2 separate regions of the Homo sapiens genome follow, and region 2 is linked to region 1. A link means that fine-mapping ties the variant in region 1 to the plasma level of a protein whose gene starts in the linked region. Region 1 holds a variant in brackets. A gene starts in the other region. All regions are shown on their forward strands. Region 1 overlaps C4BPA (complement component 4 binding protein alpha). Region 2 holds the start of C1QL2 (complement C1q like 2).

What was found. PIP is the chance, under the fine-mapping model, that this variant and not a neighbour inherited with it causes the effect. Protein levels are from antibody-based Olink assays in UK Biobank. Linkage for the fine-mapping came from a reference panel and not from the study's own genotypes, which makes the PIPs less certain.
Region 2: C1QL2 starts here. The variant in region 1 is fine-mapped to the plasma level of the C1QL2 protein (UK Biobank, PIP 0.92).

What each region holds. Positions count from the first base shown.
Region 1 is chr1:207,117,394-207,133,348 of GRCh38, forward strand. It overlaps C4BPA (complement component 4 binding protein alpha), which reads left to right. Exons shown (of 12, transcript NM_000715.4): 5 at 6,529-6,614; 6 at 6,782-6,973; 7 at 9,320-9,502; 8 at 14,153-14,347. It overlaps LOC107985251 (a long non-coding RNA gene), which reads right to left. Exons shown (of 3, transcript XR_007066838.1): 3 at 9,617-12,881. Among named protein-coding and RNA genes, the nearest start is that of C4BPA, 21 kb to the left of the region's middle. The variant T/C (reference allele first, on the strand shown) is at 14,162.
Region 2 is chr2:119,150,251-119,166,205 of GRCh38, forward strand. It overlaps C1QL2 (complement C1q like 2), which reads right to left and starts at 8,501. Exons shown (of 2, transcript NM_182528.4): 1 at 7,336-8,501; 2 at 5,993-6,731. The coding sequence starts at 8,019. The coding sequence ends at 6,552. RefSeq lists an enhancer at 6,869-7,679.

The DNA of each region.
Region 1 (15,955 bases):
TGAGCCATGATAGTGCCACTGCACTACAACCTGGGTGACAGGGCAAGACCTCATCTCGAAAAATAAACTGGTAAAATTAACTTTAGGAGAATAGATATTTTATAATGTTGACTCTCTCTAGTTAAGAATATGTTACCGTAGAGAAGGCAAAACTATTCCTCTACCCTCTTAGGGTCTCCACCAGGCCTGAGAATTAAGTTGACATGAAACAGATTAACAGGAGAAAAGCACACAGGTTTTATTTTAACAAGTACATAGGAAACTTCACAGGAAAATGAAGACCCAAAAAGTGGTCTTTGTACAAAGTTTCTTTGTACAGATTTCTCTTGGCCTTGACTCCCTGCCTCTGGTGATAAGAGTGTTCTTTTCCTTCAGGTACAGGGAAGGTATCTTTCCTGTGAGAGTTTCATGTCCTGCCTTCAGGAAGAAAAGGGGAGGTCAGAGTGCCCTTCCTGCATCTTGCTGTGTTTCAAGTGCTTTTAACTCAAAAAACAATCTTTATGCCAAACTGGTCTATTTTGGCATATTCTGCTACCCTTTGCTATGCTTTCCTCAGTTCGTCTTAGTCTTTTTTTCCTTGTTTCTTCATGTGTGTTTCAGCTTTCCTCACATAGATTTTGCATTTCTTGAAGAGTTTAAACCTCTGGCAAAACCAAACAAAAAATGTTTTTGGTATTTTAAATGGATTATTTATCCAATTTGTATTGTAACTAGTTTATCTATCATCTATCTATCATCTATCTGTCTGTCTGTCTGTCTGTCTGTCTGTCTGTCTATCTATCTATATCTATCTATCTATCATCTATCTATCTATCATCTGTCTATCTATCTATCTATCTATCTATCTATCTATCATCTATCTACTATTGATTTCTGCATGTTAGTTTGATATCTCAGCCAACTTTCTAAATTTATTATGCATTAGTTCATTCTCATGCTGCTATGAAGAAATACCCAAGACTGGGTAATTTATAAAGAAAAGAGGTTTAATTTACTCACAGTTCCACATGGCTGGTAAGGCCTCAGGAAACTTACAATCATCGCAGAAGGCAAAGGGGAAGAAAGGCACCTTCTTCACATGGCGGCAGGGAGGAGAAGTGTTGAGTAAAGGGGGAAAAGCCCCTCATAAAACCAACAGACCTCATGAGAAACTCACTCACTATCACGAGAATAGCATTGGGGTAACTGCCCCCATGATTCAATTACTTCCCACTACATTCCTCCCATGACACATGGGGATTATAGGAACTACAATTCAATATGAGTTTTGGGTGGGGACACAGCCAAACCATGTCATATTATTTGTAAAAATTTAAAAAAATTCTTTCAGTTGAATTCTCTTAGGATTATCTGGTTTGTAATCACATCATTTCAATGATTCTTTTACCTCCTACTTCCCAATTTTTAGATTTCCATTTTCTTTTTCTTATCTACTTATGTTAATTATGTCAGTCAGGATTTACCTGGAGAAATAGAACCGCAGGATTTATTGTAGGGACCTGACTTGACATAGGTGTGGGAGATAGTTAAATGGTGTTTACAGGAGGCTGTTCCTTCAATGTCTGTTGCTGTGGCCTGAAGTAAGCAGGGCAGGGACTCAGGAAGGGAAGATAGACATGAACTGAGTGCTTCAAGGACAAACTGGAACCTGCAAAGATGAGCGAGTAAAGCCCACCATTGTAAACTGGAATTCATCTTGTTCTTTCACTGCCCCTTAGCCTTCAACTTCAAAAATGGGTATGTCCTGTAGAAGTTGTCCGTCACAGTGCTAATGTACTTGGATCAGAAGCCAGGGTACATGAAGGAGGAGATCCTGCAGGAGCTGGCTCTGCTGTGGCCTGGTTGAGCCCTCTACTAACAAAGTGATAGAACAGAGAAACAACAGTGCTTGTGAACTGCAGTCACATCCTGTGCTCTGCCCTGACCTTTCTAGCATATGGAGTATGGCTCTACTAATTCACATCTACCGTCTTTTATGGGCCATACTAACTTGGCATTATGTATGGAAGATAATTCTGGGAAACATAATTACAGCTTAGCTAAGTTGACACAACATAAATCTACCACAGCTCACTCCTTGTCAAATGTGATATTTGTATACACTAGTTTTAACCATACTTAGCTTAATTTCCAAATAAAGTCAATAGCAAAGTAATACTCACATTTTACATAATGCAACTATCCCTCATACACCCAAAAACATGGAAATTCTTTTCCTAAAAGAGAATTCCCTTTGAGCTGAGTCATATCTCCCCTTTGATATTCTATAACTTAAATATTGAGATGTAAGGTAAGCCACTACAAACACATCTTATACAGTAGGGGAAGGAAAGGGGTAAAAAGAAACACAATTAATGTAATGTCCATTTATATTAAAATAAGAAAGAAATATTCACAACTTTTATGGTCCTTGTTTATGCAACTGGTCATGTGGTTGTAGCAGATATTTATAACGATGTTTCTGTTACTTATTCCATATTCTCTTTGCCCTCAGCAAGCACTTCATCTGTCGTTGGTTCCTTGCCCAATGGGGTCACCTAAACTTTTATTCTTGAATGGTCTGGGCCATCAGCAGTCCTGCCTGATTTGGGTTATTATAGTTTTTTGTTGATTTTAATTATAGGGCATTGGAGTGTAAGGGGGTGCACCCAGTATGTCTGGGTGCCCTGCATTCCAGACATACTCATCTTTACCATCACTGTGCAGAAGCAATCTAATTTTTCCCTTCATTATCAGGATTAGTCACACCAACCATCAAAGTGGACTCCTTCTTTGCCTTACCTTCACTTGCATGAGGGTCCAGAGTTGACAGGTCTCAACCTCCAAGCTTAATTTAGGGTTTTCAGGTAAAATACAGGATGCCCAGTTAAATTTGATTTTCGGGTAAACAACAAATAATTTTAGTGTATGTTCCATGCAACATTTGGATCACACTTAAACTAAAAAAAGTGTTCATTGTTTACATGAAATTCACATTTAACTAGGCACCCTGTATTTGTATTTGCTAAATCCGGCAACTCTAATTTTTGGAACTCTTGCTGCGTCCCCCAGTAGAAGCATTCTTCCACTGAAGACTTCCAAACTGACTGGGCCAGGTGCAGTGGCTCACGCCTGTAATTCCAACACTTTGAGAGGTTGAGGTGGGAAGATCACCTGAGCCCAGGAGTTCAAGACCAGCCTGAGCAACATAGCGAAACCCATCTCTAAAGAATAAAAAAATTTAAAAAACAGAAAATAAAAGAAATAAAAAGACTTCTAGATTAACCAAGAATGTTACTTATTTTTATGTTTTAAAATTTACAGTTGTTTTATGGCGCATCATGATATACAATCAACTTTCATTAATATTTCAACAGGCACTGGAATGAAGGATTTTCTTTATTAGTAGTATATAGAGTTTGCTATATACACATCAGATTTACTTTCTTTTTTTGAGACAAGTTCTCCCTCTATCACACAGGCTGGAGTGCAGTGGTGCAGTCTTGGCTTACTGTAGCCTGGACTGCCCTGGCTCAAGCAATCCTCTTGCCTCAGCCTTCTGAGTAGCTAGGCCTACAGGCATGTGCCATGATGCCTGGCTAAAGTTCAAACTTTTGTAGAGATGAGGTCTTGTTATGTTGCTCATGCTTGTCTAGAACACCTGGGCTCAATGGATTCTCTTGCCCCGGTCTTCCAAACTGCTGAGATTACAGGCATGAGCCACTGTTCTCAGTCAGATCTACTTTCTTGATAAGTTGTTTTGAATATTTTATTATGCTTGTCTTTATATACCTTAAGCATGAAGATAGGAGTTAAAGTAAATTAATAATTTTATAATTATTTTAACCATTATAAAATAATTTAATGATAATTAGCATATTTTGATTATTTTTCTTGTCTCATATACTTCTGTTTTATTAAAATTGCTGCTACATACATATTTTGCTACATAAAGATTCATAGCTCTTCACTGAAAATCAAAATCTTTAACATATAAAGTACCCATTGTGTGTCATTTAATAATCTTGGTTCTGATGTCCAACTTATGGGATATTAAAATTATTATCTTTGGTTTTCTTTTGAATTTGCTTGGTATAATTTTATGCTGTCTTTTATTTTTAATCTGTCTGAAACACTTTTAGGTTTGTCTCCTGTATATAACAGAGCTGAATTTTCTCCAATTAAAAGCTGTTTTTCTTTCATTAGGAGTTTACATTTATTGATGTGAGTGATACTTATAGACTTGGTTTTATCATATTATTTCATATTTTGTTATATATGTATGTGTATATTTATTTTCTATTAAAAATATATGGTGGTATTTAGGAAGGTTCAAAATTTGTTTCTAGTGGTGACCTATATACATTTAAATTTATATAATATCATTATTCCTCTTTATCTTTAGACAGTTTAAATTGGTTCCTTGTTATAAACAACAATAAACTTATCTTGTATTCTTACCCCTCCTTCACCCCTTCTATCTTCCCTACCAGTAAATTTGTATCATTTGTATTATCTTAGTGTTTATTTTGTATTTAACATTAATGTGAAATATTCATATGTGTCTATGGTTGCTTTCATTCTCAACTTTGCAAATGATCAGGCAATAAGGGAATTTATTTTACCCTCTCTTCCCTGTCTCTATTTTTTCTTAGTTATACTATTTCAGTGCTGTCTGAGCATATAACATTTATATTTCCTTCAGTCACACTTAAAATCACATTTGTTTTTTCTTAGATCTGCATGTACAATGTTTGCTACCATTTTTGTTTATTTTGGCTAAAGTTGCCATTGTCATCTCTTGGTTGGCTGTAGTTTGTCCTATGGTGGTTTCCAAAAAAAAGTCCCAAGTGAAAATTATTCTTTGAGTTCTTGCAGGTTCAGATAATATATCTGAGGCATTGATACCTAGAAGATAATGGGGCTTGATATAGTCCTTGGCTCATCCTTTCTTTTCTTGGATGTCTTATAGGTACTGCTGCACTATCTTTTGCTAGTGAATACTACTGATCTGAAATTTCTTCTCATATGGCTTGATCTTTGTTTGACTATCTAAATTATTATTCTTTATCTTTGAAACCTAATACTTTTACTCTTAGTTGTTTTGGTAGAAATCACTTGGTTTAATTTTTTGCTACTATGTGATGTGCAATTTTAATATGTAGATTGACGTATTGTTTTATTTTAGTAACATTTACTTGAAATATATATATTTTTTGAGTCAAGGTCTCACTCCCTTTGCCCAGGCTGGAGTGCAGTGGCACGATCATAGCTCACTGCAGCCTCAACTTCCTGGGCTCAAGCAATCCTCCCACCTCAGCCTCTCAAGTAGCTGGGACTACAGGAGAGCAGCACCATGCCCAGCTGATTTTTGTATTTTTAATAGAGATGGGGTTTTGTCATATTGGCCAGGCTGGTCTTGAACTCCTGGTCTCAAAGAATTCACCTGCCTCAGCGTCCCAAAGTACTGGTATTACAGGAGTAAGCCACCACACCTGGCCTGAAACAAATTTTTAAAAAGCTATTTTGTTCTACTTGGATTCCTTCTTTAGGTTATCCAATTAAGCCTATGTTGATTCTCTTTTGCTTGTTACCTATATCTATTAGTTTTCTCTTATCTTTTCCGTTTGTTTCATTTTTGTTGATTTTCTCATTTTTATCCTCTGTTTTCCTTATTGTGTATGGCTTCCATAAGGGAAAGTGAAAAGAATCAGAACTAAGATGCTGTTGAAACACTAAGGTGTTCCCATTGAAACAACCAGAAACAATATTTTGCACTTAGTCTCTGGGCTAGGTTGGAAAAACTACATTTTAAAGAAATTTTAAAGTAAAGAAATACTTAATTGTAGTTGTAGTTGAGATATATTTTCTTGAAGTTATTATTCAATAAATTCCACAGGCTCTTAGATTGCTGAAGGTGACATTTGCTTTAGTGTTCTATCACATTGTAAGTTTATTCCTTGATGATGCTACAATTTGATATCATTGATGATTATCAATATCCTTGATGATGCTACAATTTGTAATCATTCATATCTTTTGTTTTTTTCTGTTAGCATAAGATAGAGGGCAGGAAGACGAACTGAGGAAAGAGTAGGACATATCAAGAGCCGTAAAAATGGAAGTGGTGAACTGAAAGCTAATGATGTATGGGAATAAGACACCCACCTGGAAGTCAGAGGAAGCTTCAAGCCAAAGATGGGGAGATTGTGGACTCAGTAATCTAGCTGGTACTCTCACCCAGAGACAACCACAGAACACGCTGAAGCCAGCCTTTTATTGTTGTGCTTGAGCTCTGGATGAACTGCATTCCTGATCCCTAGTAGATGCTCAGTAACAGATTAAGGAATGAGGGTCCAAAGGAAAAAACACACGCATCTCATTGCAGTAATGAAATTTTACTGAATGGAGTGCTTAATGGGAAATGATATCCAAGAACATATGATTTCCTTATTTTAATATTGAGTAACAATTCTATTTGCTCAGACCTCTTTAATTTAATTTAGGGTAGGAGGAATTCCATTAAAATCTTTGATCTATCTTATTCAGATTTTTCTTAATTGGCTCAACCACTAGTCGTTGTGAAGTCCAAGATAGAGGAGTTGGCTGGAGTCATCCTCTCCCACAATGTGAAAGTAAGTAAAGACTCTTCTGACTTGACTATCAATTTAAACTCTGTTAGGTAATAAAGTCCCTGTGCATCTTTACAGGTATGTGTACCTTCCATTAGAATTTGCATGAATTTTAGATTTATCATGATGCCTTCGCTGAGTATTTCTTTCTCTTCACTCACTTACCTCAGTTGTCAAGTGTAAGCCTCCTCCAGACATCAGGAATGGAAGGCACAGCGGTGAAGAAAATTTCTACGCATACGGCTTTTCTGTCACCTACAGCTGTGACCCCCGCTTCTCACTCTTGGGCCATGCCTCCATTTCTTGCACTGTGGAGAATGAAACAATAGGTGTTTGGAGACCAAGCCCTCCTACCTGTGAAAGTAAGTCATAATGATGAATTCTGCATCAAAATGTTTGCTCTCTTTTGTTTAAAAGAGAAAGAAAGGTAAATTTATTGGGGGGCAAATGGAAAATTCAAAGATAAACTAACTATCGCTCTGATGCAATCATTTATTTGGCCACCTGATACTTATTGCATGTTTGTTTAGAATATAAAAGCCATAAAAATGGGAGTGGTGAACTGGGAGCTAACAGTATATGGGAACAAACAGCAACAACATCTCACTGGTTTGGTGAAGTAAAAGTTTATTCTCATTTACACTGAGTTTGTTCCATGTCCAGGAGACTCTCCAGGGCAGCCGTAGTCTGTGTTAGCTTAGCAACTAGCTCAGCAAGCCAGGTTGCTTTGATCTTATGGCACCTCCATTTCAAAATGTGCCTTCACAGTCTCTTCAGTAGACGAAGAGAGAAAGGCCAATTGTGTCCTGGCTAAGAGCTTTGGCCTGGAAGCAACCACATATCACTTTCCATTACAGCCTTTTGTCTCAAACTAGAGAGTAGCCTCAGAGGACTGGGGAATGTAGCCTTGGTCTGTTCAAGAAGCGGAAATGAAAATATAATTTGCACCTATAAGATGAAACACATATGCCTGTAGGGCAAGCAAAACCTGAGTGCCAGAAGGGCAACAGGACAAAGCAAGTGATAATTGAGTCAAAAGATATGTTAGTTAGTGTGCTAGTCTAAGGAATCTTACTTTATATTACTAAGTTTACACAGTATTGCTTACTAACCCACCACAGGACACAATCAGACGAGGGGCACAAAAGAGCAGGATACTGCCAACAGTGCAAAATGCCTGGAGTTAGATCTGCAACAAGTGAAAGCGGCAATAGCTGAGGGCAGAAAAGTGGGCAGGGGCCAGGTTATGAAGGGCCTTGTGTTTCAGTCTCAGGCATTCAGAACAATCATGGAGGGGAGACTTTGAAAGGCTTTAACAAGGGGAATAAATGTGCTGCATTTTAGAAAGATAACTCTGGCTGTGGGACAACAACCTGAAGTGGGACAAAACTTAACTGACAGTCACCTGCTATGGCTTGAATGTGCATCTCCAAACTCATGATAAAACCTAAGACCCAATGTGATCGTTTTAACAGGTGGAACTTTTGGGGAAGTGATTAAGTCATGAGGGATCCACCCTCATGAATGGGATTAGTGCCCTTATAAAAGAGGTTGAAGGGAGAGCGCTAGTCTCTTTTGCCCTTCTGTCTTGTGAGGACAGAGCTTTCATCCCTTCCCCCATGTGAGGACGCAGCAAGAAGGCACCATCTTGAAAGGGGAGAGCAAGCAGACATTGAATCTGATGGTGGCTAGATCTTGAGCTTCCCAGCCTCCAGAACTGTGAGAAAGAAATTTCCATAATTTATAAACTAGTGAAAGTATTTTGTTATAGCAGCAGGAACAGACTAAGACAGCACCTGTGCAACCCTCCAGCCAAAAACTGAAGGTGGCTTCAGCGGTAGCATGGCAGTGGGGCTGGACAGAAGTTAAGGGATTGTAGAGGAATTAAAGTAGCAGAATTGCCAGGACTGGATGACTGCCAGGATGTGGGTGAGGGGTGTGAGATAGGGGGCGGCTTGTTTTCTGCTTGTCGGGGCATGGGTCTCTGATCCCCTGGGCTGCCTCTGCACTATGTAATTACCATGGGCCACGGACCCATAACCAAAATCATCTAGGAAATTAGGCCATTATACTGAAAGTTTTGGGGGCCTTGGAAATATGTTTCTGCTGGGTTATGTATGACTGATTTTTATTGGTAGGGAAGTTGGAGGAGCTATCCACAGTCATCTCGAAGAAGGACCAATGTAATGAAAACTCATTTTAAAAGCTGAAATTATATATTTTATATATATACACACACATACATATGTGTATATATAAATATATATTATATCAAATATAAAAATATATAATATATAATACTATTGGTATAGTGTTATATATTCTATAAGACTATATTATAGAATATATAAAATATATAATAAGTATCATTAACATAATATAAATAATTTCAGCTTTTAAAAGCCTCAGTAAAATGAGTTTCCATTACATTGGTCTTTCTATGAGGTAATTGTGGATAACTTCTTCAACTTCTCCACCAATAAAAACTAGTACTGAAAGGATTACATATATATATATATTATATATACAGATATATATGTATGCGTTTGTGTATGTGTATTCACTTTAAAATGTTTCCCTTGTATCTACTTGACATGCACATTCAACAGGCATTTGTGTTGCACTTGTAACTGGATTAGCAGTGGCAGTAATATCCTTATTACCATCTATCTTTTAAAATCCACTTGTCTTTTCTCATGATTCTTTAGAAATCACCTGTCGCAAGCCAGATGTTTCACATGGGGAAATGGTCTCTGGATTTGGACCCATCTATAATTACAAAGACACTATTGTGTTTAAGTGCCAAAAAGGTTTTGTTCTCAGAGGCAGCAGTGTAATTCATTGTGATGCTGATAGCAAATGGAATCCTTCTCCTCCTGCTTGTGAGCCCAGTAAGTATGGACTGTGACAGAATTTCAATGTTTGGCATCTAAAGGTACCCCGTACTGTTAATACGGGTATACTTGCATGCATAGGCCTACTATGAATTACAGTAAAAATTTACATCTAGATCAATAATTTCCTTTATTTTTTTCTTGTTGGAAAGAAGAATGATTTTAGTGCACTCTGCAAGGTCATATATTGTCACACAAAACTGCCACATACCACAAGACTGTGCACATTCCAACCTTAAAGGGAGGTGTTAACATTGTAGATACTATGGATTTGTATATTTATTTCAATAATTTTATGGAATTTGATAGAAAATTGTCTTATTCTAACAAAATCATTATATTATTATAATTACTTTGAAAGACAAATAATAAATTGTCCTGAGGAAAAATGCCTTTTATAACTTGTACAAAAGTATTGTGTGAACTGGTTATGATTCCAACACTCTGAAGTTATAAACTCGTGGATTATTAAAAATAATGACAATAGTAATAATGATAACTTGGCACTAGACTAGGTGCATAACAAGGATTAACTCAACAAATCCTCCCAACAATTGTGGGCACTATGATTATCCTTATGTTACAGATGAGAAACTGTTCACAGAGGTTAAAAGACTTGCTCAAGGTTATACAACTGGTAAGAGAAGGAAGCCACTGATGCCTTGTGCTCTAAGTTTTGCCCTCACGAAATGTCAAGAACTTCTGGGGATTTCTGGAGCAGTGGTGGAGGAGTTTGGGGAAACCTCTCTCCTGAAGAGGTATCCACCAAGCTGGTCAAAATTAGCAAAGAAAACCATTCAAAGTCTCTGGAGAGTGATCAAAGGGATTACAACAAACCGAGAAGCATTTATTCAGCAAAAATATGGAGACTTGATAGGAACAGTGGGAGGACATTGCATTAGAACTAGGGGCTGCAACAGCTCTACCTTGCGGGAGGATGTTTTCTGTGGGCTCATCCCACAAGTGGCAATTCCCATCTTCTCCAGCTCCCTGGGGTAAAAAAGTTATTTGGGGTGGATTTGGCAGCCAGTGAAAATTACATGACAGTATTTTTCAAAGATCCATGCTGTGGAAGTCGAATATTGAATCGGTGCCAGCAAACATGCATCAGTGTCTGTTCCTTCACCCCCAACTCCGATTATATGGGGAGGATCTAAGTGGGGCAGCTGGTAAGAAGTCAGTCCCCCCTTTTTCATGGCTCTATGTTGCACGAGAACTATTCCAGTTGGCTCAGCAGCCAAGTGGCATCTCCCATCTTCCCCAGCTTCCTAGAATGGAAGAACTATTATGGGTAGGTTGACAGCTATGAATATTGGCAGTTATTATTCTCCCCAGCTCTGCGCTGTGGAATATGTGTACTTGGTGGTGGGCGCAGCTGGGTGGCAGTGCCAGTTCCTACTTCCCCCTTTTCTCTTCTCACAGCTCCTACACCATAAGAAGAACTCTAGTGCAGTGCCTGGGAAAGAATGAGTTTTCTAATTTCCCCCAGCTCCTGATCTATAGGACAGACATTCTTCCAGGGCAGATTTGGAGCAAGCTTCAAAGACTGTAAACACTCTGCCCCTTTCAAGGAACTTTAATTGGATTAGACTGTGAAGCATATTATGCCCCAGGGAGTTGCTGAAAAAAGTAGAACAATCAGATAAAGATTGCTGGAGGCCAATGGTTGTATGTAATACCAACAGAGGTAGACCACCCAAAGTCTCAATGAGAAAGAGACAGTCAAAGAGAAAACCACAGTTATCTCTGGCAGTTAAAAAGACTGTGTACATGCCCAAGTCTGTGCTGTCTGAGGCATGCTGTTAGATGTTGCACACTTTGAAGGAAACAGACTTAACTGAACTAGTCCAATTATGTCACTAAACAAACAAGAAAATGAGGAAACAACAACAGATCCCAAAGGTGGTAAGGGAGAATCAATATCCAAAGTTGCTGCAATGTATTATCTAACATGTTCTGTTTTCAAAAAAAAAATTGTCAGATGTGCAAAGAAACAGGAAAGAGTGACCCATGTAAAGGGAAAAAGCCAACAATAGAAACTGTTTTTGAGGGAGCCCAGAGAATGGACTTAGCAGGAAAGTTCAAAGAATCACAAAGCAGCTATTATAAATATGTCCCAAGAACTAAAGGAAACAATATTTAAAGAATTAAGTAAATGTATTATGACAGTTTTATCAAATAGAAAATATTGATAAAGATAGAAATTATTTTAAAAAGAAATGGAAATTCTAGAGTTGAAAAACACAGTAAGTAAAATGAAAAATTCAAAAGAGGAACTCAACAGTAGATTTGAGTTGGAAAAAGAATCAGTGAATTTGAAGATAAATTGAGATTATGCAATTTGAAGCACAGAGATGAAAAGAATGAGGAAAAATAAATGGCATCAGAGAAATGTGGGACACCATTAAGTGTACCAACATATGTATAATGAGAGTCCCAGAAAGATGAGAGAAAGAGAAAGGAGATAAAAACCTATACAAAGGAAAAATGGCTGAAAATATCACAAATTTGACCAAAAAAAAAAAAAACCCAAACAAAAGAACAAAACAACACATTAATCTACATATCCAAGAAGCTTGTTGAACTCAAGTAGGATATTGCAAAAAGGTCTAGACCTTGAGACATTATAATCAAAATGTTGAAAACCAAGAATGAAGAGAAAATCTTGAAAGCAGCAAGAGAAGAGCAACGCATCATGTACAATGTAACCCCAGTAAGATTAACATCTGATTCCTTATCAGAAAGAATGGAGGCTAGAAAGCAGCTAGATGACACATTCAAAGTGCAGAAAGATAAAAACCTCAACCAAGAATCCAACAACATATTTTGCACTTACATATATTACAAACTGCACAATAAATTTTTATAATTATTGTTTTATATAATTTCATGTTTCATGTCTTTTATAGTAGCTGAGAGAAGAAAGGAGGGCAAGTATATATTTAGAGAGTTTATTATGTTAATCTTCTTATTCTTCATTTCTGGCGCTCTTTATTTCTTCCTGTAGATTCAAGTTACCATCTGGTGTCATTTCTGTACTATAATACAGCTTTGTTCCCTCCTACCTTTCTTGTGATGTTATTGTCAAATATATTGCATTTCTGTATGTTATAGGCTTAATAATGCAATTATATACATATTGTTTTATGCAATTGCTGTTTAAATCAGCTAAGAGAAGGAAGGAGTAGTAATATATATTATACTGTGGTTCAAATTACTGACATAATGACCTCTGCTGATGCTCATTGTTTTACTGTGTGGATTCAAATTACCGTCTGGTGTCAATTGCTTTCAGTCTGAACAATTTCCTTTAGCATTTCTTGTAAGGATAGCCTTCTAGTAACAATCAGATACCACTTCACATCCAGCAGAATGGCTGTAATAAAAAAGATAGACAATAACAAATGTTGGTGAGGATGTGGAAAAATTAGAACTCTCATACACTGCTAATAGGAATGTAAATTGGTGCAACCATTTTGGAAAAGAGTTTTTGCAGTCCTGCTGAAGTTTAACCATGGAGTTACCATATGACTCTAATTACCCTCCTGGGTATCTACCCAAGATAAATGAAAACATATGTCCACACACAAAAATTTTACATGAAGATTCATAGCAGCATTATTCATAATAGCCAAACAACCCAAATGCCCATCAAATGAATAATGAATAAACAAAAAGTGGTTTATCCATAAAATAGATTATATCATTTGGCAATAAAAATGAAAAATAAAAAGTACTAATGTATGCTACAACATGGATGAACCTTGAAAATATTATGCTAACTGAAATAAGCCAGTCACAAAAAGTACATGTATTGTGTGATTCCATTTATTTAAAATGCTCAGATTAGGCAAATCCATAAAGAAAAAAATAGATTAGTGGTTGTCAGGACCTAGGGGGAGGTGGAAATAGGGAGTGACTGATAATGAATATGAGGTTTCTTCTTGGGTTGATAAAAATATTCTGAAATTAGTTAATGGTGATGGTTGCACAACTCTGTATATACTAAAAACCATTGAATTGCACATTCTAAATGGGTGAATTTATTTGTTGTGACTTTAATCTGAATAATGCTGTTAAAAAAGAACTTTTATATTCCATTTCAATAATCATCCAACGTGGTAGATGTTTGCATTATATTTTCATATCATATGAATCAGTAGCATTGGGAAAGAGAGAAGAGGACAAGATCCAAGGCCCAGGCTCAAAAAATGTTTGGAGCTTGGTTTTTTTCTTGCCAAGTCATTCCTGGTATCATCTGGATGAGGGGAACGGCTCCTGTTTATTTTCCCCAATCAATCAGTAAACATAGTTAGATTTGTTTGTGACAGTTTTCCTGCCATGCTTCAGTTCAGAAACTAAAATCTCTGAAATGTAAAGAAGAGGAATGAGAATTAAAATTATTATACTTGGCACAGCACATGGAAACCACTTGGGAGTGCCCTTAGTGAAGAGCCTCTCTGGAGGTGTGCACATTTGAGCGAATGTCCATGTGTGTTTTCTGGTGTGGTTGATACATCAGGCCTTGCAGGCTGGTTCCAGGCTGAATGAACGTATGACCCCCTTTGATAGGACAGGCTTATTGACTGCTGTGGCAGCCCTAGTAATAGCGTCCTTTTGTTCTTCTTCTTCTTCTTTCATGAGTAGATAGTTGTA[T/C]TAATTTACCAGACATTCCACATGCTTCCTGGGAAACATATCCTAGGCCGACAAAAGAGGATGTGTATGTTGTTGGGACTGTGTTAAGGTACCGCTGTCATCCTGGCTACAAACCCACTACAGATGAGCCTACGACTGTGATTTGTCAGAAAAATTTGAGATGGACCCCATACCAAGGATGTGAGGGTGAGTTTTTGTTTTTTAATATTTTTGTATATTAAATGTCCAGTATGTGCTAGGATTCTCTACCTTAAATGAATATAATTTTATCCCTCACAACAAGTTTAGAATTAAGTTAATTCAACAGATTAGTAAACTGTTAGTGCCAGAAGGGGACCATAAACATGTTACAGTTTGAGGCACTGAGAAATTGTAACCTTTCCTTATCCCAGTTCAGAATCAAATGAGAAGTAGACACAGAAGTCAAACATTATGCAGATTATGTATTAGTTTTCTTACTGGTAAAACTAGAATGGAGAATACAGCTCAACTATTGTCAGAGTCAGGCTTCCTTCATAGCCCTTACCTCCCCAGTATGGGCTTTGGGGTGTTTGGCAGAAGACAAGTTTGTGAAACAGTCATGAGCGTAACCAGCTGCAGGGTGACTTGTGTCTCATGTCTCTTGAACCATGAGATGGCAGGGCTTCCTGATCTGCCTCTAGAAGACAAATCCTGACTCGTGACTGAGCATTCTCACTTCGTAAGGATAGAAAGGAGACTTCCTCCAGTTTCTCTGGTAGGAGACGCACCTCTTTTATTTGTGGAAATGAGTGAGGGACTGAACGACAAGTGGATACTATATTATGAGCCTCAGTGGAACAGACAAGAGAGGAAGAAAATGCTTTCTTCTATCCATCTATCAGAACCTTGCCACTTTAGAGGTGAAGACACTGAGGCCAAGAATACAGGGAATTTTATGCTGCATATCAGAATTTCAACAATCTGTGAAATGCATAAATAATGAAAAGTGGTAGTTTAGATCAACCTGTCAGAAGATTACTTATTTCATATTAAGACTTAACAAAGTTTAATTGCAGTTATTCAGACTCATTTTGGGGAAATAGAATAAAAGATTTTAATAAAAGGACTGAATTAAAAATATACTTAATAAAACTTACCGCCATTACTTAAATAACAAAAAGTATTGCTTATAAATGTTTAAAAACCTCCTTTATAGTTGTATTTAGGCTAGGTGCGGTGGCTCCTACCTATAATCCCAGTACTTTGGGAGGCTGAGGCGGGAGGATTGCTTGAGCCCACGAGTTTGAGACCAGCCTGGGCAATAGAGTGAGACCCTTGTCTCTACAAATAATTTAAAAAATTAGCGGGATGTGGTGGCACACGTCTGTAATCCCAGCTACTCAGGACGCTGAGGTAGGAGGATAACTTGAGGCTAAGAGGCCAAAGCTGCAGTGAGCCGAGATCATGCCACTGCATTCCAGCCTGGATGACAGAGCAGGACCCAGTTGTTTACATTTATTTGATCCCCTATGATCTTATTGATTTAATTATTTAATAAAGAATATTTTTAACCATTTTAAAAGCAGAAGTGAAGTAGTATTTATCCAAGTTATGAAACCTGATCAAATGTGAATTTAGACTCATGACTTACATATTTAAAAGTATTTTCTGCACTGCAAAGCATTTCATAAATATTATTGTTGTTTTAATATCCAAACCATATGATTGCTGAATATTTTTATTATAATTCCTAAACAAATGAGCACTGGAAGTGTTTGAGTATGTCCAAAAGACCCCATTTTAATACTGGTCGAGTTACTGACATGGAGAATG
Region 2 (15,955 bases), not on the chromosome of region 1:
CGGGTAGATACCTCATTCTCCAAGCATACTGGGCTCCTCCCTAACTGGAGCCACCCCACACACACCACACACATACAACCCCAAGGAGTGCCCTTCCTTCTCCCTGTGCCAACAGAGGCAACACTGGACCGGCTGGAGTCAATCTTTCTTTAATTTACTCAGTTCTAGAAGAGGGGCTACTGAGTATAGGAAATATACCACAAGGTAGAAATCAAGGGCAGAATCATTTGTACATTGGATAAAGACCTTGTTTATACTGATTTGGAAATAAAGTAGTACTTTCCCACATGAAGGCAGAACACATAAGTGAAAGAGGAAGCTATCAGCAGACTCTTCCTCCACTAGACCAGGGAATGCTGGAAGCAGCTCACAGACCCAGTGGTGGAAGATTTGTTCCTCCTATTAAAGGTCATCATCAACAGTACAATGAATGCACCTCGGTCAAAAGAAACAGGGGCTCTATGTGCACCGCTGAGTTGTCCGAGAGTAAGCATGAAGGGGGACCCAGGTGTGGAGCAGTGTTTAGAATTTTACACTCTGCGTGTTCAGAGCCACACATATGGGCATTCTAAAAGTCTGAAAGAATACAAGTCAAGCTGTTAACAAATTGTCTCTGGGGAAGGACATTGCAGTAAGGGAGAGGGAATTTTTGCTCTTTTATATTTCTCTGTGTTGTTTGGATTTTTTGCTACTGCATATTATGTCAACAATTTTTCAAAAGATGTTTTTCGTTTCAAGAAAATGAAAGAATCCTCACAGCAAAAGCACCAACCAAGGGACCCTACTGGAAATGAGGCTACTGCCCAAGAAGCTCCAGAATACAGAGGGTCATCCCCAAGGCCCCAAGGGGGAGGCTAAAGCAGCCCAGAAGCTGCAGTATGGCAGTGGTCATAAGCTTGTGTCAGCTAGAAGGTTTTGGTCATTCCTAAAGATGTAACCAGGGACCCAAAGATTGTAATAAATGCACCTTTACATATATCTGCCCCCTTTCACCCCAACCTTAAAAACTCGGGGCTAGGGGTGACAGTGGGGGATAGATGGAGACTCATTGGTTAGAAAGCAGTGATTCAGCTTGCTGGGACAACCCCCTATGATCCCATTGTGAAGTCAAAATGTTTTCAAGATTTACCTTCTCAAGATCCCCCAGGATGCCTCCATCCCTCTATCCATCCATTCTGAAACTATTTATTGAGCACCTACTGTGTGCCAGGCACCATTAGAAGTGCTGGGGGCAGAGAATATTCTCTGGTGGCCCACACAGACACCAGGTAGCGCCCTTGTGAAGTCTACAGTCCATGGGGAAGACAGACCACCTGACACAGGATTACAACAGTGTCATAACTGCCATGCAGAGAGGCTCTCAGCAGGGTTCTCTGGCCCCCAGGGTGGGGAGAAGAGAAGCCATGGAGCACCAGGGCTGTGGGGGGACTACTGGAAATCATGTGCCAGCTGAGCCCTGAAAGAGTGAGAGCTAACCTGGAGAAGAGGGTTCCAGGTAGAGGAAAGAGCATGACTGGCACACAGAACAGTAAGAAAGGGAGAGCAAGAAGCCAGGGACCAATGGATTGCAATGTTAGGAAAGGGGGGCACTTCCTTTCAAGGCCTCCAGAAAAACCCTTGGGCACTGGCTGCACCCACAGAGTGCTTGATGGGGAATCCTGTTTCTAGAAACGCACCCACATTGTGGTTTGTCTTTTAAGGTCTCGCCTCCCTGCTCCACCCATATTCCCTAAAGGGCCTGGGCTCTGGGGTCACACAGACCTTGGCACCAGTCCCGGCCCTTACTTTGGGGAAGTCACTTCACCTCTCTGAATCTCAGTTTCCTCATCTGTAAAATGGGACTAATAGTTAGACCGACTTCATAGGGGTGTTGGGAGGACACAATGTGCCCTATCACCAATTCCTAACACATCATGAGGTCTTTAAAAATCAAAATTCAGCTTTTTATGCTTTGCCAGGAGAGGTAAGTATTGAGCAGATGACAGGCCCATGTGGCTCATAACACTATTCAATGTACTGGTGTGTATTTTTGAAATTAGTAGGATAAAATGCTTTAAACTACTTCTCATATTTTGTGCTGCAACTGCTGCTATGCTCTATGCTCCTTCATGGAGGGGAATTCGAATATAGCAATAACAAGAGACCAAAACATTCCCCCAAAATTCCTCTTTTCCATCTGCCGAGTCTGTCCCCCCTGATACTCAGAGGGGCCCCAGAGAGACCCCGCCCCGCCGGGCCCATCCTGATACTGAGTTGGCACCAATGCCAACATCAGTCTCCAAAATCAGGTGTAAGAAGAAAACCTGGGAACTTCAGCTTTATTTATTTTCAGTCTGAAAAAGGTAAGAGGAATCATGCATTATAAATTCTTAAAACGTAAACTGAAACTGTGCACTCCAAGAATTAAAGTACTCAGGCTCACCTGTGACTCAGAAAAGAATATCTCTTCAGGCCTAAGATTCTGGGAAATGGCAAGCTGAAGGGAAACGGCCCTTGAATTAACCCTAGTCTCTTTTTGCTCCAGTGAAAAGAAACTGGTTTCCAAACTTGGTTAGCCAGCTGGAACATAGATACTGACTTGAATGTGCAGGTCCTTTGATGAACGTAAATACAAAAAGATGGAACAATGTAAAAGTGTAGACTGACAATGGTATACAGAAATTATTTGTAAGTTAAGTAAATATATTGGTTGTGAGTGCTCAAAAACTGTTTAACCAGTAGAACTGTATGATCAGAGAAGTCTGGAGCAACGAGTCTGTGCAGTGGCCCCTCTGGTGGCATCACAGCCTGATGCAGAGGGGGACCTGGATGTTTTGTCTGGGGTGCCCAAAAGAGCCATCTGCTCACACAGATAGGAGAGAAAGGTAGCAGAAGGCATAACTTCTATCAGGATTTCTGGGGCCAGGTGTGTATCTCATGCACTTAGGCAGTCCTGAATGATAGTCGCAGAGATGCTGGCTTTGAGAATGGGGAAGTGCTCTCCCACCAATCAGAGGTAGCCAATGCTCACTTCACTAAACTACACTTGCAGGATGGCCCCCTCCTCAGTGCTACCTAGAGGAGAAAAGGGAGAGCTGTTCTAAGAGAAAGTGGTCAGCAGGCCCTGAGGAGAGGAGACTGGAGGGGAGGGGAGTTGCTGGTCAAGACAGACAGGTCCCAATGGAGCATTTGGAGTTGGTGACGTAAGGCCCCAATGGGCCATCAGCACTGGCTAGGCTTTTCAGCCAAATTCCTCAGGAGTGGGAACCTCTGTCTGGGGTGCTCTCTGGGGGGGCTGCCTGGGCCAAAGAAGCTGGCTGTTCTCATCTGACCCTCTGGAGGATGCTGCCATGTCCTATATCAGAGGAAGGGGTGGGAAGTGTGCCCCACCTATGTGCTCTCCTCTCAAAGGCCTGAGAACCCTGGGAGTTGGACCTGCCCCTTCTGTGCAGGCAAACAGGGGCAAAATCTGTAGGTCTGAGTTCAAGTTGCAGCTCAGACTCTTATAAGCTTTGTGCACTTGGGCAAGTCATGGACCTCTCTAAGCCCCAATTTCTCTGCCTCCCAAATGGACAGAATAATATCTCTCCAACTTCTGGGATGATGCCAGTATGATAATCCCAAACCAAGAACGTAATTAGAAAAGGGACCCAAAAGCAATTAGGAAATTAAACTAATATGTTATGATTATAATTGATAGTAAGTCCCTACTCAACTGGAGACAAGGGTAAGTGTCTGGCGCAAAGGGTTTCTTGCATTCCACATGCACCCCAAGACTGATGGCACCATGACGGTGACAATGGTGGGAAGCCTGCCTCCCCACTCCACCCTGCCCCCTTCCAATAGAGTCCTCTGGACAGATGATGGTGTCATGGACCTCGGTGGGCCATGAGGGGCCTGCCTGGGACCTGGAAGGTGTGCATACGCAGAGAGATTGTTCCTGAGCTTGCTAGCTCCTGCCACGCCGTACCTCCCATCCGCCGCCTCATCAATCCATCATCCTCTTAGCAGCTGACACCTCTGGCAGCACCTCCGGCAGCCCGGGCATTAGAATTGCAAGAAGCCCCGGCTGCACCAGGGAATACAGATGGAGGAATCTCAGATTCAAATTTGTCTAAGTATTGTGAGCAGTCAGACCCAGGCAAGGCATCTCCACTGCCCTTCTGCCAAAGGGGAGTGACAGGGGTTTTGTTAGAAGTACAAATTGCTTCTTAATGCAGAGGATAAAGCTGGGTTCAGGCACCTCCTTAGAAATTCCTCCTGCTCCCAGGAAAGCCACCACTGCATGTCAATTTTAATTTTTGAAATTTAAACCAAGGGCTTTGTGTCTAAGCTCCATCTCATCGGAGGAAGGGGAGGAATAAGTCAAAAAGGATTAGGTGCCCGCTGGGGATTGCAGATCCATAGCAATTAGACTTCATTTGGGTCTCAGACATTTGGTTTTAATCACATTTCTGGATGACACAATCAACAAAGCATCAGAAATTGATACCTATGCAACTGTAGATGGGCCTGACTCTGCCCTTCCCAGTTCCTGGGCTCAGCTGGGTTAGGGATCCACAATCAGCAGGAGTGGGGTGGGGTGGGGAATTGGGGTTGGGATTACTAGGTCTGGAACTGGGGGAGGGGATGGCAGTATGTATATATGTGTTTCCTCCCATTCTCTTTGAGTACTTTATCCCTGGACTCAAAGCAGACATAATCATTGCTCATATTGAAAAGAATGACAATAAAACATTATTCAAACAAAATAAGAGCAAAAAGGAATAGCGACAGCAACAGGACTCAAGGCAGGGGGTATAGTTGTCTTTTAAATGGGAATCACAGCTTTCAGCATTCTCCAGGAACTAAAGTCGAGCACAAAGCAATTTGGGGCCAGAAATGCAGCATGAACATTGTCACACACCACACTGACATGGACTTATGAATATAAGTGTGTGTACATGTGTAATGTGGATTACGTGAGGACAATCACAACATCACATCCACATAGGAGATACACACACACACACACAATCTCCAGCTTTACACAGATACACACACCCTGGGGTTGCCTTTTTGTGTATACTCACACATTTCTTTTCACACAACCCGTAAAAGTGACCTCAGTAAGCACTAACAGGTTGCTGGGAGCTGACTGGTTATTTTGTACATAACTTTGTTGTAACTCAGTGATCTGACAACAAAAAAAAAGTAAAAAGAAAAAAATCAAAACCATGCGGGGTGTTTTCCTAACTTGTGTGTGTGTAGAATGCTGATGGGACACCAAACACACACACTCAGGTTCAGAGCAGGCACCCCAAATCGCATGCATAAGGGAAGGGAAGCCCGCAGGAAAGAGGCGTCCCTCCCCAAGGAATGGTGTCCACCTCAACACACAGCCCTGAGGAAGTTCAGCAAGCTGGATGATCCGCGGAATTGCCTCAGTTTACCAGCTCTCCGGAGAGCGGTGGCCCTGGCGGCTGTGAGTAAACAGGCCTGTGCTTAGTGAACCATCCGCTCGAGCGGGTGTGTGTCTGCTAGGGACTTCTGCACTTCCTTTTAGGAGCCAAACATCCTACAGATCCCTCCCCGGCAAGTGTCACTCACGCCTCCCATTTCCCATAGATGCCTTCTCTTCCCCTTCCTTCCCCAGAAGCCCCTCCCCTCTGACCTCCACCCACAACTCCGGGAGGACTAAGTTGCCCAAGTTGCCCAAGACTGGAGACCCAATCATTCCTCTCCTGCTTTCCTCTAACTCTCCCTGATGCCTTTCCCCGCCTCCTCCCCTCCTCCCAACCCCACCTCCGGCCTCTCCAGCTCAGGGCTGCAGCCTGGGGAGAGCTTCTGGGAAGGGTGGGATGCAGCTCCCATTTACCCCATGTCTTTTCGGCAACTTCTGGTGGCAGGGACATAGCAGCGGCTGGGGAGCAGGTCATAGATGGGCCTATCCTGGGCCCAGGTAAGGTCTTTATGCCAAGGCGGACATCTGGAGCCCTGGTCCAGGATGTGTCGACATACAGACAACAGAACGCATAGTCTAAAAACATAATTTAATGCATCGCGGTGAGTCTGAGTCAGGAGGGAATGCGGTGTGGAGAGGTGAATTTTCTGTTTGCTGGAATTCTGCTGTGGGTGGGGTTTTGGCTGATGGACAGGGAAATCTGCACAAGTATTTCGGGTCACAAAGAAGGACGCCCCAGGAAGCCCGCGCTCCCTCTGGCCTACCTCCCTGGCCAGGGCCCGGAGCCCTCCGCTTCTAGGCACTGGGAGGAGGCTGTCTGAGGAGGGCAGGCTCCCGGCCCTGCCTGTCCAGTCTAATCAGGTTTGCAAAGTCTGTGCCGCCGCCTCAAGGGCTCGGGCGTCCCTTCCTCCCTTGCCGGGATGGGGATGGAGACCAGGAGCACAGCCCTGAGCGTGGTGGGTCGCAGACGCACTGAGGCCAGGAGCGGGGCAGGGAGGACGCAGGGATTTGTCTTTTCCAAAGGAGATGTCAGGAAGTGTTATGAATCGAGAGTGGCCTTTGCCAAGGAGCCGCGCCCGGGCGGAGACCGGGCGGCCTGCAGCCACCCCGCCTCGCACCCCCCGCGCCCCTAATCCGGGTACAGAAGAAAGCCCGAGAACGTGCTGTACTTGTTATTATTGCCTCCGTGAGCCTTCCCGCCATCCAGCTTCACATACACTTCGTCCCCTGAATCCAAGTGCAGCACCACGCTGTTACTGGCGTAGTCGTAGTTCTGGTCGGCGTCCTGTGCAATGGCGCTGGCCCGGACCTGGGGACAAGCGGTGGGAGCAGGTGAGCCGGGGCACCTCTTCCCGCGCCTTTGCTCAGCCCACACCAGGCGCGCCACTCACGGGCCTCCCGCCTGCTGCTTCAGGGTCCACACTCCCACCCCAGCTCCATGTTCTCTCTCCAACTTAGTCAACTCCTTCCAGGTCCCCCCTCCTCCTCGCGCCGACGAGTCTGGGAAATAGGGAGAGGGGAAGCTTCATGAACACTGACCCAGAGTGGAAGGGTGGGAGCCAGGGGCCAGGGCCAAGAGGAAAGGAGGCTGCAGGGCAAGGGGGCGACCTGGAGAGAACTAAAGAACTGAGGTTTCCGAGAAGCCCACGGAGAGGCAGGCAGGGACGCAAGTGGCCAAGGAGTGTAGTTTAGGTATGGGGGTCTCTGGGCTCTCAAGGCCCAACATTTGGCTCTACGTCCCGGTGAGCGCGGCCTCGGCGCATCGGGAAGCGGAGATACTGTGGCACCGAGGCGCGTTCATTCCCGGGGCTCGCAGGGTAGCCCGCGGGTGGAGAGAAAGGAGGCTGGTTCCCTGGGAGGTTCAGGGCGCGGGCGAGGGTTTACGGGGGCCGGTGAGTGTAGGGGTCACTGACCTGCCCGTTCTTGCAGAGGTCCGCCCACATGCTGGTGCCGTCGCCGCCGCGCATGAGGATGTGGTAGGTGAAGAAGTAGATGCCGCGTACCTGGCAGCTGAACTTGCCCGTGGTGGGGTCATAGTGATTGCCGAGGTTGGTGACCACGTCATCGAACTTCAGCACCTCATAGCCTTCGTGGGGGCTCTTGAGACCCACATAGAAGGCGATCTTGGGGCCGCTGAAGGTGGCGCTCAGCGCACTGGTCACTTCACCCTCGGAATCGCCACCTACCCCGGCCCCGCCGCCCACCACCCCGACGCCGCTGGCCGTGCCCGCCGTCAGTTGCAGCCCTGGCAGCCCGGGCCGCCCCGAGTCGCCCTTCTCTCCCGGAGGGCCCCTGGGTCCAGGCGGGCCCGGCTCTCCAGGGGGCCCCCGCGGCCCTGGCTTGCCCGGTCGCCCCGGGTCGCCCTTGGGTCCCTGGATGAAAGGAGGAGGAGGGTTGGCGCTGAGGTCCTGCATGACTTCCAGGGCGGCGGTGCTGGGTCCGGGTGGCTGCGCCTTTGCACCCGGGGGCTCCCCGCCGGGCGCGGCAGTGTAAGGGTCGCAGATCATGCGGCAGGTGCCCATCATCTCATAGTGCGCGGCGCCTCGGGGCGCCGCCTGCAGCAGCAGCGGCACGGCGATGAGCAGCCCGAGCGCCATGGCCAAGAGTACGCCGACGGCCGCCAGGCAGGCACGCCGCCGCCGCTGCCACAGCCGGGAGGCGACCGCCACCAGCTCCTCCTTGCCGCCCGGGGAGGTAATGGTGGGGCGGCGCGGGCGGCCCCGCTCCCCGCGCTCGGGGACCGGCTCCGCGGGTCCTGGCCGCGCCCCCGACGTGGCGACCCCCAGCCCCGGCTACCCAACTACTTCAGCGAGAGGCGCCGGGACCTCTGAGCCTGGGCCCACCGCGCTGGGGCTGGTCGGGAGAGCCGCGGACGCCCGCGCGCATGACGTGGGGCACACAAGACGAATCCGGCGCCCCGAGGGTCCGGCGCCGGCCAGGGAGTGCTTGCGCTGGCCGGGGAGTCTGCTTGCGGCGTCCGGCGCTGGCTCCGCGGCGCTGCCTCCCGCCAGGCTCCGCTCCGCTGGGTTTAGTGGGGCTCCTAGCGCAGTGAGGGCGCCCCGGCTCCGCGGCGCGCTCTGCTGTGCTCTCTCGCTGTTCGCTGGCTCCCGCGCGGAGGGGGGACCCCGCTACCCTGACGTAAGGAGTCCGGGGCTGAGCGGCGGAGGCGGCGAAGCAGCGCGCGCTGCCATCACTCGGGAGACGGAGCCCTCATGTCATCAGCCTCCTATCTGGCGGCGTCCTCGGCAGAGGCGGTGAAGGCGCGGTTCCCCCTGGCGGCTCCCAGGAGCCACAAGTGGGCGCAGCGGGCGCGGTCCCAAGCCGGGGCACATCGGACACACCCACCCGCGGCCACACTCACGCGCCCCCCACCGATAACACACACAGACACCCACGCACGCAGTGGCGGGGCACGCACAGCCACCCCCACATGGCCACGAAAGCAGCTGGAATCCAGGTGTCAGCAGGGCTCCTCTGGGGTCACCTAATCCATCCCCTGGCCTGCAAAGAGGATCAAACCTCAACCCACCGAGTCCAGGAGAGTCCCGTGAGGTCCAGCGGGAAGGAGTTTCTGAAAGACCTCCTGAGTTATTTCTTCAGAATTGAATAGATCTCGCTTCTGGAAGATCTTTCGCAAACCTAGACTAAGGACTCCAGACTCTTAAACAGGCTCCCGTAGAGCACCCCACTAACCTCTGAGGTGACTCTAAAAAGCCCAAGGCTCCCAATACAAGAATATTTGCGGCCGGGCGCAGTGGCTCACGCCTGTGATCCCAACACTTTGGGAGGCCGAAGCGGGCAGATCACCTGAGGTTGGGAGTTTGAGACCAGCCTGACCAACATGATGAAACCCCGTCTGTACTAAAAACACAAAATTAACTGGGCATGGTGGTGCATGCCCGTAATCCCAGCTACGCGGAAGGCTGAGGCAGGAGAGTCGCTTGAACCAGAGAGGCAGAGGTTGCGGTGAGGCGGGATCGTGCCATTGCACTCCAGCCTGGGCAACAAAAGCAAAAGTCCATCTCAAAAAAAAAAAAAAAAAAAAGGAATATTCGCCTCAGACCTTTTCTTCCACCAGAAAATGGCTGGCCCTTGTCCTCTGCGTGAAGCTGGTGTAGAAACCAAATGCTTGATGCCGGCACTTGGCAGTGATCATGGTGCACTCAGCTTCTACTCCAAGCCCGGCCACTGCCAGGCAGATGCATGGGCACATTCCCTTGGACATCCCCAGCTTCCTCCTCCTGAGATGGGTTTAGTTATTTTAGAAAATAGTCCAAATAGTCCAAAGCCATTCTGAGCCAGTCTTGAATAAACCATGGCCTCAGATGAGAGCAGAATAGTCTATCTCCAATGTAGCATGTGAGGCTAAGGAAGGATGAGAGGCCCGCCGGTGTGGGAGAGACTTCCAGCGGAGAAATCAAAGCCCCAGCTTCTGCTCTTGCCCTGAGTAGCTGTGTGATTTTGCCAGGTGGTTCCTGTCCCTGAGACTCAGTTTCCTTAAAAGGCCGCCTCCTGCCCTAGCACCCCCAACATGGGAATCACACCAGGCCTGTCCTGGGGGGAGAATCTAAGGGCTGGTGTCAGTGTTTGGTGTAGCATCAGCATCTCTGGAACAACAGTGCACCCACCTAAGGCTATTGCTTTGAAGCTAACTCTCATTTGTCCTGCACTAGGTTCTTACGGGTTAATTAAAATCTATTTTTGTCCTCTGATCACCCTGGGTCATTTCCCCACTCCCAACCTCGTTGCTCTAGCCTGTTCTCTCCACATATATTTGTGGAAAGGATGACTGAGCCTAGCCGGAAGCCAACTTTACCAAGGAGAGAAGGAGCACATTTATTGGCACCTACTACGTATGCATCAGGCACTTTGCACGTGCTCCTTCATTCATTCCTCATGTTACTGTGGATTAGTGATCATTTTCCCACCGCACCAATGAGGAAAAAAAAAAGGTTTTGCAAGTGTAGGGTGTTTGCCAAGTGCATTTTACCCACATGACAGAGCCAGGATCCTCCCGGCACCCAGATCAGGGGCTATCTGAACCTGTCAGTGAACACAGCTTCAACAGCTACTTCTTGGCCACAGTCTTCACTGGTTTCCTCAGACTTGGGAGTCTTTCTCCACTCTCTGCCTCAGAGTCATCCCAAGAGCACGTGATTTCAGGAGCCACATGGCCTACTTCCAATCCTGGGTCTGAGACTTCCTGTCTGTGTGACCTTGAGCAAGTTGCTTCATCTCTCTGAGCTCGGATCTCCATGTGTAGAATGGGAATGGAAAAAGAACCTACCTCTAAGTTATTGAGAAGACTGAACGAGCCAATTAATGTAAAGGCTTTAGAACAATAGCTAGCTCAGTAGAAGCTTAGCTATTTTTATTAGCTATTGATGCTTTCAACCTCCCCTGCCATGGTTATGACCACTAGGATGCGACATGAAGGCAATATGCAGGGTGGCATGGGGAGGGTTAGGGTTTTAAAAAAAGAGAAGCTCAAAGATAATTCACATCCTTTGTCCTTCTCCAGAGCGCAGAAGGGGGATGTCCCATGCCTCCCACATTCCCCAAGCCTGCCCTGCTCTGTCTTTTTGTCTTTCAAAACTACCCAGAGTGTTTGTTCCCAGTCACCAGTTCCACCTGGACAAACATTTTCCAGGCAGACACTCACTCCGTTTGAATTCCCCAGCCTTTCAGACTGCTGGAGACTGCCAAGTCCCAGTGATTTTGTCCTTGCAGTATCTGGGCAAAGATGAAGCAAGGAGGGTCAGATGTTTGAGACCCAGGCTTTCACCTTGGCAGACCACAAGCAAAGCTACCTTCCCTGGGGATCAGCATTCCTGGGAGCGCCTCTCAAGACCAGCCCTCCACCAGGAGGCAGGGGCAGCAGGCTCCAGGGCAGGCAGAGCCCAGGCAGCCTCCACATAGCAGCCAAATAAGTCAAGAGGTGTCTTTCCCCTTGCTTCTCCTTCCTCCCACCCATCATGGCAGGGCCAGAAGGCATGGCCTGCTGGAGTGTTGAACATACCTATTTTTTTTTCTTTTTTTTTTTTTTTTTTTTGAGACAGAGTCTCACTCTGTCGCCCAGGCTGCAGTGCAATGGTACAATCTTGGGTTACTGCAACCTCTCCCTCCCAGGTTCAAGCAATTCTCCTGCCTCAGCTTCCTAAGTAGCTGGGATTACAGGTGCCCGCCACCATGCCCGGTTAATTTTTGTATTTTTAGTAGAGGTGGGGTTTTGGCATGTTGGCCAGGCTGGTCTCGAACTCCTGGCCTCAAGCAATCCACCTGCCTCAGCCTCCCAAATTGCTGAGATTACAGGCGTGAGCTACTGCACCCAGCTGACATACCTGTTTATCCACCTGGCTTCTGCTCCTCCTGAGCGATCCATATCATTGGTGACTATCTTCTCTTCAATACTAATTATGACCTATATTAACATATTGCCTTCCATTTAGACTGTGGTTTTTACATTTCGAGACCCACTCAAATCTGTTCTAAATTGCCTTTAGTAATCCAGCAGGCATTCCTTCTGCCAACATACACTGACAACCTACTATGTGCCAACCAGTGCTCTCTATCTTATCCTTTCATAGAGCCCTGTGCTCTGTGACACATAGTTTGATGCTTGGTTCCACACTGTCATGTCCGGTTCTTTAGTGGCCTCCACCAGCAGTGGGCCCCATGCTTCATCTACCTGCACCATGGCCTGTCTCCTGCATCTCATCTGGACTCCTCTCTAATTATCCTTTCAGTCTCAGCTAAGTGTCACTTCCTTGTCTGAAGTCTTCCGTGACCCTTCTCTAAGCTGAGTTGATAGTTCCTACCCATGTACGCTTTAGAGTACGTTGAATGTACCCTGCCATCCTATGTCTTACCATCATGCATTTCTTTATTAGTTAGCCTCCCCCACCTGGCTATGGGCTCCAGTAGGGCAGGAATCGTATCATTCATTCATCTTCATCTTTTGTGTATGTCATTCATTTGCTCAATATGTGTTTATTGACCCCTGTCATATGCCAGCCATCATGCCACGTGCTGAGTACACAGTGGTACACAACAGTCTTGGTTCCTTCTACTCTAGCTGTTCTACAAGACACCCTCAGCTCCCCCATTTCTTTCTACCCGTAGCACATGAGTTTGTACCTGAACAGCTGCAGCATGGGTGTTTATTGACATGCTGTCTCTAAATCAGACCTGTGTCCCAATTAGAGTGTAAGCTCTTTAGAGACATCATGTGGAATACATTGGCCAATCTTCTGCCTGCATCCCCAAAGGGAAGGACAGCAGGAGATGTGTCAGGGAGATAGACAGGAGGGAGATCACCCAAGGCCTTGGAGCCCATGTTGAAAGAGGTGAATTGTCTCCTGTGTGTAATTGAGAACTGCTGAAGGAGTTTAAGCAGGGAAGTGATGTGATCCATCTATGTTTTGCAAAGACCACGCTGGCTGCTGTGTGGTGAATGGATGTGGTGGTGGAGTGGGGGTGGGTTTTGGAAATGAAACCAGTTTGAAGGCTATTGCATGATCTAAGCAAAAGATAACGATGGCTTGGTCTGAGATAGTAGAAGAGAAGTAGGTGAATTCCAGGTATATTTTGAACTTGGGGCCCATGGGTCTTGCTGATGGATTTGAGATAGAAGTTAAGGAAGGAGAAGGAAAAGAAAAAAAAAATCAAGATTAACTTCTAAGATTTGGGTCGAACAACTGGGTGAGTGAGCATGAGAAGGTGGGGATATTTGGGGAAGAGCAATATGTTGTCACTGCTGGGAGGTGGAAGGAATTATGAACTCAGTTTGGGAAATGTTCATTTTGAGTGAAATATATGAATGAAGACATCCTGTGGGCAATGAACATAAGTCTAGTACTCAGCAGTGAGGTTTAAAAATAGAGCTATTGGCCAGGCACGGTGGTTCATGCCTGTAATCCCAGCACTTTGGGAGGCCAAGGCGAGTGGATCGCTTGAACCCAAGAGTTTGAGACCAGCCTGGGCAACATGGTGAAACCCCATTTCTATTTAAAAAATTATTTTAAAAAATTGATAATGGAGCTATACACAAGCAAGTTTTCATGGAGATTGAAGTGTGAGAGAGAGAGAGAGCACAAGCTCATTATAACAATCCCCCCATGCTCACCCCAGCCATTTAAAAGATGGATAGAGGAGAAAAGAAACAGAAGCAGTCAAAGTAGGAAAGAAAGCCAGGAAAATGGCCTCACAGAGGGGAGCAGCTCAGAAGGGAGGATTGTGATCTGTAATTTGGAAAGTCCACAAGAGATAGAGTAAGATGAGGATAAAAAGGTATCCATTGCGTATGGCAAGATGGAAGTCATTGTGGATGATGGCAGAGAGAACACTGTGAGGTCACAAAATCATTTCCTTTTCTTCTTGGGCAGGGCCCAGCTATATTTTCCAGCCTCTCCTTCAGACTGGTGAGGACATGTGACAGAACAATGGCCAATAGAATGTGAGCTGAGTGATTGATGTAAGCCATTTCAGGCCTGTACCCTAAAAGCTCTGTTGCAATATTCCAAGCTCTTCCTTTATCTGCTGGCAATAGCAATAATAGGTAATATTTACTGAGCACTAACTGTATCCCTATGCCAAGCATTTTAGATATATTAATTATTTTAATGCTCACAGCACTATGAGATATGCATCCCTGTTTTACAGATGGGGAAACTAAGATAAAGCTATATATTTATAAATGTCACTGTCATATGTAATCACTCCAATAATTGCTCCAGATTATGCTGGGATCCTGGACATGTGTCCCCCCAGATCTGGAGCTCCCAGATGCCAGGTCAGTCTGGCTGAAGGCTTCTTGCATATATTGCTGATCTCTCCCAGCCAGACGGTAAGCCTCCAAAGGGCAGGAACTGTCATGAGGACATGGCAAGTGTCAAATAAATATTTTTAAATTATTGATTATTTTATAGTGCCTGAAAATTTTACATATATGATCTCATGTCATAGTTTGCTCAAAAAGTGAAAAAATTTAAAAGATACTCTTTATGCTGGAAAATTAGGAAAGGAGGGCAAAGAAGGAAATTGATTGGCCATGCAGGTTCCTGTTAGCCTTTGCAAAAAACAGAGAAGTCTTCCTTCTTTCCTTCCTTTCTTCCTTCTCTATTTTCTCCCTTCCTTCCTTCCCTCTTTTCTCCTTTCCTTCCCTCCTTCCTTTCTTCTTCCCTCCCTCCCTCTCTCATTCCCTCCCTCCTTCTCTCCCTCTTTTTCTTCTTCTCTGCTTTCTTTCCTTATTTATTCATTTATCTGCTCATTCATCCTCCATATAGCATGTGCACCTACCATATGCAGAATTCTGTGCTGGGGTGGGTAGGGTGGGAGGCATGAATATGATGTTCTTGCTAAAGAGCTTGCAGCTTGGATGGAGGAACAAGACTAACAAACAGAAAGCACCTAAGCAGCCATCTGTATTTAGGTGGTATAGACAAGGAGTACAGGCAGGAAGAGGTTGCCAAATGCAAGTCACTGTGGCCACACAAGGCACTTGAAGTCTATCCCAGGATGAAGAGACAGAGCAGGACCTTCAAGGACAAGTGAGACTTGAACCTGTGAGAGGTCTGGGTGGATAGTGCAGTGGAGCTGCCCAACTGGTGTCTGGGGCACAGCAAAGAGGCTGGTCTGTACAGAGCCAAGGGTTTGTGCAGGGCTGGTGTGGACAGTATGTTACATGTGCCACTTTTCCCATCAAGCATTCTCCCAGGACCCTGCTTCTGCAAGTATTGATTACTCTGTCTTCCAGCTCCATTTTGTTTATGCACTATCTTTGGCCTTTTTGGAGACACTGTAGTAAGCCTGGCCCTGTACCTCTCTTTGCATACCCCACCTCCAGCCCCTTAGTCTTCCTCATGTGTCTAGTGAGTGATTGCTCTGAAAGAAAGAGAAGGAAAATCATATTTTCTACCTCTGCTGGGCACTCAGCTAGAGCTAGTGGCGCATAGGAGCCATAGGCTCTTCCAGTCCTTTCAGGCAGGAACTAGTGCCCTACAGTGTAGGGCAGAACGGGGGCGAGGTGGAGTGCACAGGCTCCTGCTGTTCTGAGAGGTTGGGCCACAGTGACCCACAGGCCTGTTTCCATTTTCAGCCCTAGCTCCTGAGATGCTCACAGCTAAAGGGGGTGGAGAAAGAATGCTCCAGTCTTAGCCCCTGAAGACATCAGACAGCCCTGCTCAGTGACCAGTGAGAAAGCACCCACCAGGCCCATTAACCCAGAAGCAGCAGCAACACGTTTGAGTCAAGAGGGTCAGCCAGCCCCAGAAAGCCCTCACTTGGCCCTCTCAGAGACTGCTACTGGGGCCCTAATTATCTCACCTCTAAGGGGCTGGCCCTGGCTGGATCTTCATGGAGCTGTGAGCTTGTTGCAGTGTCTGGGCTTGCTTTCTCCAGAGCCCAAGTCCCCTGCAAAAAAAAAAAAGAGAGAGAGAGAGAGAGAGAGACAGCTCTCAGAAACCCAAAATGAGGATGATTTAAGCAGGTCCTCCTGCACTGAGCTCGGCTTATTCCCACACTAGGCCAGCCAAA